3 linked regions of the Homo sapiens genome follow. The protein of the gene in region 2 purifies or fractionates together with the protein of the main gene of each other region. This does not show direct contact. Each region holds a gene or a part of one and is shown on either strand. Other genes may lie near its edges. The genes, in order: MYO19, DHDH and ZNF185.

What was found.
Region 1: the proteins of DHDH (region 2) and MYO19 purify together in Homo sapiens (affinity purification with mass spectrometry; one large-scale study listed by BioGRID and IntAct). This does not show direct contact.
Region 3: the proteins of DHDH (region 2) and ZNF185 purify together in Homo sapiens (affinity purification with mass spectrometry; one large-scale study listed by BioGRID and IntAct). This does not show direct contact.

Annotation. Positions count from the first base shown.
Region 1 is NC_000017.11:36,528,221-36,531,869, forward strand, and holds part of MYO19 (unconventional myosin-XIX), read right to left. Parts: exon of another isoform or gene 3,448-3,649; intron 2,848-3,447; exon of another isoform or gene 2,846-2,847; coding exon of another isoform or gene 2,756-2,845; intron 1-2,755. UniProt on the Homo sapiens protein: Actin-based motor molecule with ATPase activity that localizes to the mitochondrion outer membrane. Motor protein that moves towards the plus-end of actin filaments. Required for mitochondrial inheritance during mitosis.
Region 2 is NC_000019.10:48,932,106-48,935,854, reverse strand, and holds the start of DHDH (trans-1,2-dihydrobenzene-1,2-diol dehydrogenase), read right to left. Parts: upstream 2,157-3,749; 5' UTR 2,134-2,156; coding exon 2,044-2,133; intron 856-2,043; coding exon 744-855; intron 1-743.
Region 3 is NC_000023.11:152,964,046-152,967,694, reverse strand, and holds part of ZNF185 (zinc finger protein 185), read right to left. Parts: intron 2,249-3,649; coding exon 2,168-2,248; intron 529-2,167; coding exon 457-528; intron 1-456. UniProt on the Homo sapiens protein: May be involved in the regulation of cellular proliferation and/or differentiation.

The sequences.
Region 1 (3,649 bases), on a different chromosome or scaffold from region 2:
AGGTGAGGCCAGGCACAGTGGCTCATGCCTATAATCCCAGCACTCTGGGAGGCCAAGGCGGGCAGGACACAAAGTGAGGAGATCGAGACCATCCTGGTTAACACGGTGAAACCCCGTCTCTACTAAAAAAAATTCAAAAAATTAGCCAGGCATGGTGGCGGGCACCTGTAGTCCCAGCTACTCGGAAGGCTGAGGCAGGAGAATGGCGTGAACCCGGGAGGCGGAGCTTGCAGTGAGCCAACATTGTGCTACTGCACTCCAGCCTGGGCGACAGAGCAAGACTCTGTCTCAAAAAAAAAAAAAACCAAAAAACATGAAGGCCGCGACAGCTGGTACTCAAAACAGCTGGCAGCTACAGAAGGGTGGGAACCTGTATAGTAGAAGGAGACTCTGGTATCATAGTCTGGTTGGGTTCAAATTTCAGTTCTGCCTCTTAGTAGCCCTGTGAGCCTGGGTAAGTTACCCTCTTTGAGTCACAGTTTGTTTATTCGTAAATAAAGGAAAATAAACTCAACTGACAAGGTTATTGGGAAGAAAAGAAGAGATATACAAAGCATTTAGTCAGTGCCCGGCATACAGCATGTACTCAACAAATGCTATCTCTTCTGCCAAGAGCTCCGGCCACTTGCAAGTAGCACTTCCAGGCTACTAGCCTTATTAGAAATAAGGCTATAGGAATGTTGCAAAGGAAAAGAACCATGGGTTAGGCCTTTTTGGGAAGAGACAGTTCAGCTTTTGATGTAAAACAGCTGTACCTTCTGAGAGAGGTAGCCCCATGTCTTCATCACCTGCCTTTTGTGGCTTAAATTTAGGCTGGCTAATGAATTGGTTCCCTTGGCCCGAGTCTGCTTGAGAGAAAGCCTGGCTCAGACGGCTGTCTGAGGTCAAGAATAAGCACCAAGGGAACAGGTCCTTTCTCCTCCCTTGCCTATCTTTTTTTTTTCCTTTCTTTTTTAAGAGATGGAGTCTTGCTCTGCTACCCAGGCTGCAGTGCAGTGGCATGATCATATCTCACTGCAGCCTCCAACTCCTGAGCTCAAGTGATCCTTCTGCCTCAGCTTCCTGAGTAATTGGGACTAGAGGCATGAGTCACCCTATCTTCCTTTGCCCATTCTTGATGTATCATCCCTCCACTTCCTCCTGTGGTCCCATTTCTCCTACTGTCTCCTTTGGGGATGCAGGAAAGACAGAGTGGGGGTTGAAGACAGGTATCTTGCTGAAATGTGCTTTTGAAGGAAGAGGTCTGTGATACAACAGGTGAATTTCCAATGAGAATGGTGAGCCTAAAATTTCAAATCTCTCATAGAAATAAGCCATGGTGGCAAATTTCCTCCAAGAGGCCCAGTAATGCATTTCTTCCAAAACTGTTGCCTGTTCTCTGAACTTTGGGCCCACTATAATGCACAAGGTAGGCTCTTGGCCTCCAGAGTAACTGCGGAGGTCAGAGCACAGCTATATCTATGCATATCCCTCTCCTTTTATGAAGGGGAAAAAAAAACCACCACTACACAAACCATTCACAAACACAGACACAATTTATGAAGAGTTCTGATCCAACCAGAGAGGCATCTGAGTATAGTGATCAAGTACCTGGACTTGAAAGTTAGTTGTCTGGCTCTGAATCCTGACTCTATCTCTTACAGTTATATACTCTTATGTTAATTTCTTAATCTCTTTCTGCCTCAATTCTCCTCATCTGGTCCCTGTAATCCCAGCTACTTGGGAGGCTTAGGTAGAAGAACCACTTGGGCCTAAAAGTTCGAGGCTGCAATGAGTTATGATTGTACCGCTGCACTCTAGCCTGGCCAACAGAGCAAGACCTTGTCTCTAAAGTAAAAAATAAAAATAGAAAAATTTCCAGCTGGCCATAGTGGCTTAAGCCTGTAATCCCAGCACTTAGGGAGGCCAAGGTGACCCTGTCTCTATAAAAAATATTTAAAAATTAGCTGGGCATTATGGCATGTGCCTGTAACCCCAGCTATTCTAGAGGCTGAGGCAGGAGGGTTGCTTCAGCCCAGGAGGTCGAGGCTACAGTGAGCTATGGGGATATCACTGCACTGGGCAACAAAGTGAGACCCTGTCTCTAAATAATTATTTAAAGTTCTTTTCTGTAAAATGGGATAATGGTACCTACCTCACAGATACTCACAAGCACAAAAACACACGAAGGATTTAGAAAGGCCATCTGGAATCTGCCAAAAGGGGTTAGCTATTCTTCTTCTAAAAGTGGCTTTTTTTTTTTTTTTTTTTTTTTGAGACGGAGTTTCGCTCTGTCGCCCAGGCTGGAGTGCAGTGGCGCGATCTCGACTCACTGCAAGCTCCGCCTCCCGGGTTCACGCCATTCTCCTGCCTCAGCCTCCTGTGTAGCTGGGACTACAGGCACGCGTAAAAGTGGCTTTTGTATTTTTTTTTTTTTTTGACACAGAGTCTCGCTCTATCGCCCAGGCTGGAGTGCAGTGGCACAATCTCGGCTCACTGCAACCACTGTCTCCCAGGTTCAAGTGATTCTCATGCCTCAGCCACCCAAGTAACTGGGATCACAGGCATGCACCACCATACCTGGCTAGTTTTTGTATTTTTAGTAGAAATGGGGTTTTGCCATGTTGGCCAGACTGGTCTTGAACTCCTGGCCTCAGGTGATCTGCCCGCCTCGACCTCCCAAAGTATTGGGATTACAGGCATGAGCCACCGTGCCTGGCCTTATTTATTTATTTATTTAAGAGACAGGGTCTCACGGCTGGGTGCGGTGGCTCACCCCTGTAAAAGCACTTTGGGAGGCTGAGGCAGACGGATCACTTGAGGTCAGGAGTTTGAGACCAGCCTTGTCTACAGAGTGAGACTCCATCTCTAAAATAAAAATAAATAAACAAAAATTATTAAAAAAAATTTGGAGGCTGGGCGCGGTGGCTCACGCCTGTAGTCCCAGCACTTTGGGAGGCCGAGGTGGGTGGATCACGAGGTCAGGAGATCGAGACCATCCTGGCTAACACGGTGAAACCCCATCTCTACTAAAAAATACAAAAAATTAGCCAGGCGTGGTGGCCAGCACCAGTAGTCCCAACTACTCGGGAGGCTGAGGCAGGAGAATAGCATGAACCTGGGAGGCAGAGATTGCAGTGAGCCAAGATCAAGCCACTACACTCCAGCCTGGATGACAGGGTGAGACTCCATCTCAAAAAAAAAAAAAAAAAAAAAATTGGAAAATAGAGATAAGCAAAAGGAGCATAAAAATCCATAATCATACTACCCAGAAATAACCAATATTTTAGAGAATATCATAGGTTTTTTCCCCTACATACTTTAAAAACATTGAAAAGTATTATATTTTTGTGTAACTTGCTTTATTCCATTGTATTGATATACCTTTTTTTTAATAAGAGAAAAAAAAAGTTTAAAAATAAGCAAGAAAAAAGCCCAGAGCAGTCAACTGTTTTGCCCACTTCTTACCTTCAAACCTGTTCCAGGAGCCATATGGCTGGAAGGTCAAGCTGCAGTGTCTACTATGGCTCCCTTGATGCTGGCAGGCCCCACACCTGGCTGCTACCTTGCTGATGTCAGGCACTTACCTACCCAAGACTCCACTAGACTCTGAGCTCCTTGAGGGCAAGCACCAACCTCAACATCTGCCTCAGCCCAGTGCCTGGCAACA
Region 2 (3,749 bases):
TTTTTAAAATTTTTAATTAATTAATTAATTTTTTTTTTGGAGGCGGAGTCTCACTCTTCGCCCAGGCTGGAGTGCAGTGGCGCGATCTCGGCTCACTGCAAGCTCCACCTCCCAGGTTCACGCCATTCTCCTGCCTCAGCCTCCCGAGTAGCTGGGACTACAGGCGCCCGCCACCATGCCCGGCTAATTTTTTGTATTTTTAGTGGAGATGCGGTTTCACCGTATTAGCCAGGATGGTCTCCATCTCCGGACCTCATGATCTGCCCGCCTTGGCCTCCCAAAGTGCTAGGATTACAGGCGTCAGCCACCGCGCCCGGCCTATTTATTTATTTCTAAGACCAAGTCTCACTCTGTCGCCCAGGCTGGAGTGCAGTGGCGCGATCTTGGCTCACTTCAACCTCTGCTTCCCGGATTCAAGTGATTCTCCTGCCTCAGCCTCCCCAGTAGCTGGGATTACAGGTGCGTGCCACCATACCTGGCTAATTTATTTTTATTGTTATTTTTTGTAGAGATTGGGTCTTGCTACGTTGCCGAGGCTGGTCTCGAACGCTAAGTGTAGTTTAACACCTACTAGACAGCCAGTCCCAGACCAAGCCCGTTTTATAGTTCTCCTCCCAGCCAAAGGTCTTTATGGAACCCAAAGGGATTGGACCATCCTGAGGAGCCTTGCATCTCCCAGGGGGCAGCCAGGGGGCACCGCTCCAGGGGCGGCGGCCAGCACCCCCATCGCCCTCGCCACTCACCCACGCTCGGGTCCTTGGCCAGCTCCTCATAGGAGCCGTAGGCCTTGGGGATGTCGTGTTTCTGTGCAAACTCCTTCGCACGGCTCAGATCGCGGGCCGCCACCGCCACCACCTGGAGGGGCACAAGAATCGGATTTGAGGGGCTGAGGCAGGCGTGGAAACTGGGTGGAAGGGAGGCAAAGGAGGAGGCTCTGGCCAGGGGAAGGGGAGACGTGGTCCTGGGGGAAGAGATGACGGGGGCTGGACATTTGGGCCCTGGGAAAGAGAGATCTGGGGGAAAGCCGTTATTAAATCCCCCAATATTGAAATTATCTTCATAGTAGCTTACATCAAGGCCTTTCCAAACCTCAAGACACTCAGGTTTGTGTGGGGAAAAGAAAGAGAGATCAGATTGTTACTGTGTCTATGTAGAAAAGGAATCTGTATCATGAATAAGTTCAAGGAAAGGTGCTGTGACCGGATGTGCACGTAGGCTAGATTTATGTTTCACTTTACACAAACATCTCAGTGTAGCAAAGAGTAACAGAGCAGTATCACTGCCAGCATATCTCGCCTCCAGCCACAGGTAGGTTTTCTCCTATCTCAGAATAGAAGGAATGGGAATGGTCCGCTTTACACTGAGACAGTCCATTCCCAGGGAGAGCAGGAGACAGAAGCCTTCCTCTTATCTCAACTGCAGAGAGGCCTCCCTCTTTCACTACTCCTCCTCAGCACAGACCCTTTACTGGTGTCGGGCTAGGGGATGTAAGGTCTTCCTTTCCCACGAGGCCATATCTCAGGCTTTCTCAGTGGGGGGAAACCCTGGACAATACCCAGGCTTTCTTGGGCAGAGGTCCCTGCGGCTTTCCGCAGTGCAATGTGCCCCTGGTTAATAGAGAATGGAGAATGGCGATGACTTTTACCAAGCATACTGCCTGCAAACATATTGTTAACAAGGCACATCCTGCAAAGCCCTAAATCCATTAAACTTTGATTCAATACAGGACATGTTTCTGTGAGCACACGGTTGGGGCTAAAGTTACAGGTTAATAGCATCTCAAAGCAGAAACAATTTTTCTTAGTACAGTTCAAAATGGAGTTTCTTATGTCTTCATTTTCTACGTAGACACAGTAACAATCTGATCTTTCTTTTCCCCACAGGTTTGCAGAACAGAGATGGAGAAGGAGGTAGCAAGGAAACAGACGTTTCACTGCAATGACGACCCACTCACTAGTCCTGAACCCTAAACTCCCTCCTCCTTTAGACTCTGGAGTCCCGCCCCCCGCCTCCTCTTCCCCAGAATCCGGAGGGCGGGCAGACCTGGTGCTCAGAGCGAGGCAGCGTCTGCAGCACGGCTGTGAAGTCGCTGGAGATGAGGCCGACAGACACGATGCCCCAGCGCAGCGCCATGGTTGCGATGCGGAGCCCTCGGCACCTTCGGTCCCTCCAGGCGCGAATTAAGTACCTGACGCCCCGCCCACCCCGGGGGCGGGTCCCCATCCTCCGCCCGTATTGCGCCTACGCCGATTCTCGTTGGCTCCAGTCGGCAGAGCGGTCATTTAGTTCTAGCTTCCCCGCTGGGCGAATGCACCGTTTAGCTCCGCCTTACAGAGGGAACCACACCTTGACGTCGCTTCTACAGATCTCTTACCTATGACTTTAGGCTCGTCGGATACGCGGGGTAAGGACAGCGTGGGGAGGAGAGGTTTGCTTTCTTGCCAACACCAATCCTTGAGAGTTAGATTTAATGTCTTGCCCTCTGGACTTTGTGGCAAAACTTTGCCCTGACTTTTTTGCTCTCAAAGCCACGCATCATTAGGGGTTGTTCACAGAGAGAGAGAGGATTGTAACAGCAAACTTAATAATTATTACTAATATGTATAGAGCACCTGTAGACCAGCTCCTCAGCTCTGCGCTTTACCTTCTTCGTTCCTAATTTCTCCCCGCAGACCTGGGAAGTAGCTTCTATTGTCCCCAGTTCACAAAGGGGGAAACAGACTCCAAGATCCCTGGTCATTTTTTGGAGGTCTCACAGTCAGGAGGTAAAGACCTGTGAATTGGCTGCTTCCAGAAGCTATAGTTTTAGAAACCAGGCTGCTTTGCTTGTTAGGAGCCCCAGAGCCTGGCCGACTGGTTTCAAAACCCTCCTTGCCCCTTCTTGGCTGTATTGCTTTTGGACAAGAGGTCGCCCTCTCTGGTCCTCACTTTTCTATTCTGGAAAGCAGAGATCATGATAACATCTACCTACATAGGGTTGTGAGGAGGATTCATTGAGCTCTATGGTCTATTATGTAAAATATACTGTATTATTATAATTATTATTGATATAGGGTCTCGCTCTGTCGCCCAGGAAGGAGTGCAGTGGCACAATCATAGCTCACTGCAGCCTCAAATTCCTTAGCTCAAGGAATTAGCTCCTGCCTTAGCCACCCTAGTACCTGGGACTACAGTAGCTGGGACCCAAAGTAGCTACTGGCTACTACACCTGGCTAATTATTTTGTTTTATTTATTAATTATTTTAGAGATAGGGTCTCACTCTGTTACCTAGCTGGACTGCAGTGGCGTGATAATAGCTCACAGCAGCCTTGTACTCCTGGGCTCAAGCTATCTTCCCGCCTCAGCCTCCTGAGTAGCTGGGAGTATAGGCATGTGCCCCACTTACCGCTATTTGTTTGTTTGTTTGTTTGAGACGGAGTCTCACTCTATCCCCAGGCTGGAGTGCAGTGGTGTGATCTCAGCTCACTGCAACCTCCGCCTCCCTGGTTCAAGTGATTCTCCTGCCTCAGCCTCCTGAGTAGCTGGGACCACAGGCGCCCTCCACCATGCCCAGCTAATTTTTTTTATTTTTAGTGGAGACAGGGTTTCACCATGTTGGCCAGGATGGTCTCGATCTCCTGACCTTGCGATTTGCCTGCCTTGGCCTCCCAAAGTGCTGGGATTACAAGCATGAGCCACTGCACCCAGCCTGCTAATTTTTGTTGCTGTTGTTGTTTGTTTTTTGTTTTTGAGACGAAGTCTCGCTCTG
Region 3 (3,649 bases), on a different chromosome or scaffold from region 2:
CCACAGCACTGGGCATTCTTGGCTTTGTGTGTCTTTCTGGCTTCTTGATGCCAGCAGCCCATTTTTCTTCCTTCTCTGCCCACTCCTCTCTTTTGTAGTCATTTTATTTTTACTTCTGGTTAGATTTGCAAGTTAATGAAGTGATTGATTAGGTTCTAATCTGAAGGGCCCCTCCTGCTGACACGAGTCCTCTGGGTTGTCAGATGCCACCACTTCCCTTCTCAGTCACCGCTGGTATCTACCCTCTAGTCTTAGCTCAATTCAAAGGCTTTAGTTGTCACAAGTGTGATATCCCAACAAGGGAAGCACCACCCTACGGTAGTGTCCTTCACCTTTCTGCAAATGGATTGGAGGCTGCAAAGCAGAAGACAAAAGCAAACAGACTCAGCAGGAACTCTCCCTTCCCTGATTCTCCTCTGTAGAAGTGCAAGCTCCGTGCTAAGAAAGTCAACATACCTCTCAGAGTATGGAGTGCTGCCACATGGAGGCTTCTTCTCCATGGCGAATGAGTCCTCAATGCTGCTGACGCTGCAGGGAGTTTGATAGGGGAGAGGAGGGCAGAGATGAGAGCCAAATCACTATCATAGTTAATTTTCTAATTAACCTTTGGCCACAAGCTGAGACATAACTACGATGCCAGTCGTCATTCATGACTTGGTGCCACAGGGCCCTTCTATGGGGGGGCAAAGGAGACCTTTCACAATGAGGGAGATGATCGGGGCTGGGTGGCTAGGATTCCTGAGGTTGTATATGCCAAGGGGACCCCACTGACCAGTGGGAAAACAGCAGAGCTTTCCTCCCCACCTATGATATAATGTGACAGTCACCAGGAGCCCACTCAGCAGAAATCAGATACTGGGAATGAGAAGAAAGAAGGGATCATTCTGGTATAATACCTGTGCTTGAGTTATGGGGTAGAATTAGGGGGTGCAGACGGGTTTGGAGTTTCTTTTTGGGGAGACAAAGGTGTTCCAGAATTGGATAATGATGTTTGCATAACTCTGTGAATGTACCAAAACCTCGGGACTGTACACTTTAAAGGGTGAATTATAACTCAATAAGCTGTTGAGAAAAACCACCCTAAGGGCCTACAGATGTGAAAGCAAAGCTCAGAGAGGTTGAACATCTTGTCCGAAGTGATCCTAACAGGGGGGCCTGAGCTGGGGCTTGAACTTGACCCCCACAGCCATGCTCATCATTCCACAGCACCAATAAAAGCCAGTCCAGAAGCCCCAGAGGCCCAATCCTGAAATAAGGCCAGGATGCTCCTCTCTGTTGCTAAAATCCTCCAGTGAGATGACATGTCATAAGAAACATTCTAAGGGACCTCACCTCAGTGTGGTAGGTAGCAATACACCGAGGTGACATGGAAGTACCCCTCCACATGGCATCACAAAGCAAGAAAATGAAGAGATGATCAATGAAAAGGGGAGGCCGAGGCAGGTGGATTGCTTGAGGTCAGGAATTCGAGACCAGCCTGGCCAACATGGTGAAACTTCATCTCTACTAAAATACAAAAACTAGCTGGGCATGGTGGTGGGCGCCTGTAATCCCAGCTACTAGGGAGGCTAAGGCAGGAGAATTGCCTGAACCCAGGAGGCAGAGGTTGTGGTGAGCTGAGATGGCGCCACTGCACTCCAGCCTGGGCAACAGAGCAAGACTCCATCTCAAAAAAAAATTAATTAAAATTAATTAACTAATTAATTAAAATTAAAAAGCAAAGCCACACATGTATCAGGAACTGCAGTCACATGTGTGTTCAAATGAGGCAGCCTGGCATGACAGAAAAGAACATGAGGGCAGAAGAGAAGAGCTCTGTGATCTGAAAAGAAATAGGATGAGCTAGTTGGTCCCTAGGGCTCTGCCAGCTCTGTCAAGAGGGGTGTTCTCAGCATTTTACAAAATAAAATAACAAAGACAAGCAGAACAGAATGGCAGTGAAAATGGTGTGCAGGATGAATTCACCGGAAGGGAGAACCCAAAGGTGCCCAGTTCAGTAGAAAATGCATCAATCCCATCAGAGGGCAACTACATCACTCATCCACTCGACAATTACCCCGAAGCTACTCTGAGCCAAGTCCTGGACAAGGAACTGGAAATGCAGGGATGAGAATATGGGAGCCGGCAGGAGAAGGCCGACATGGAAGGGTTTGGGACCCGCTCTTACTTGCTATAGCGTGCAGATACTGGCTTCCCAGAAGACACTTCACTAGCATTCACGTACTCCTTCACGAAGAGAATCCCTTTGCTGTAGAAGGAGCACAGAAGAAATCAGAGGTACACCAGAAGATTCCAGGGAACCAGGCCTGGCCCACAGGAGTGGTTCAGGGCTGGGGAGACCCAGCCTGGTTTGAAGGAAGTGAAAGAGCTCATGGGAAGGCCCAGGATAAAGGCACTGGCACTGCTGTGGACTCAGACTACAATCCCAGGCCATGAGCGTCTCTTGTTGTGTTTGGACTGAGGGCCCCAGAAAGGGGCTTCCTGCAACCAATGACAATGTGCTGTCCTCCTCCATGCAGACCTCGGTGACCCCATCTTCTCCCCAGGCTTCTATACTTCTACACTTCAGTCCTGTGGGCTTTCCACCCCTACTTTAGGGCTGCGTCGTCTTTCCCCTCTACCCACAACCAAGATATCCTCCAAGCCTTAATCCTACACTGTCAGTCTTTACCACTCAGCACTTCCCAGAAGGTACTCAGCTACTGTGCAATCTCCACCTCACATCTAACCTCTCCATTCTCACTCCTAGAGTCCAGAGGCCTAGAGGTTGCCTCATCCTGGACTGGCCTCTGCAGGACTGGAAACAAGGTCTGCATCATGCTGGGCTCAGGATGGCCCCAAATTTTCCCCCATTTCCATGCTGCACACTCCAGCCTGCTGACCTGATGTCTGCAGAGGCCCCCTTGGATATGCCCCCCTCCCGCCCCCAACACACACACCTCACTGAGCAGCCTTCCTGCAGTGACATCCCTTCCTGCACCCTGACAGGTGGCCAGGAATGCAGGTGAAGCAGTGGGCATGTGACAGAGACAGACAAACCTCATGTTGAAATGTGATTCCCAGTGTTGGAGGTGGGGCTTGGAGGGAGGTGACGGGATCATGGGGGGATCCCTCATGAACAGCTAGCACCATCCCCTTAGTGAAAAGTGAGTTCTCATTCAGTTAGTTCACACAAGATCTGGTTGTTTCAAAGTCCGGGCCCTCCCCTTCCTCACTCTTGTTCCTGCTCGTGCCATGTGATGGTCCTGCTCCCACTTCGGCTTCCACCATGATTATAAGCTTCCCGAGGCCTTTGCCAGAAGCCAAGCAGCTGCTGGTGCCATGCTTGTGCAGCCTGCCAAACTGTGAGCCAATTAAACCTCTTTCCTTTATAAATGTCCCAGCCTCAGGTATTCCTTTACAGTAACACAGGAATGCCCTCACAGGCCCGGCCTTCACGGACTGGAGCTGGCTTCCCAGGCATGGACCCATGAATGGCAGAGCCACATCCACTAGTGCACTAGGAAGTACCACTGCAGCCTCTTACAGAGATAGGAAAAAGGAGGTGTGGGAATGTCTAGGCCCGGTAGATGGGAGTTTATATTAGGGGACTAACACTGTCCTGTGTGGCCCCTTGGCTAATGGCCTGCTAGAAACTGGGGAAGGCACT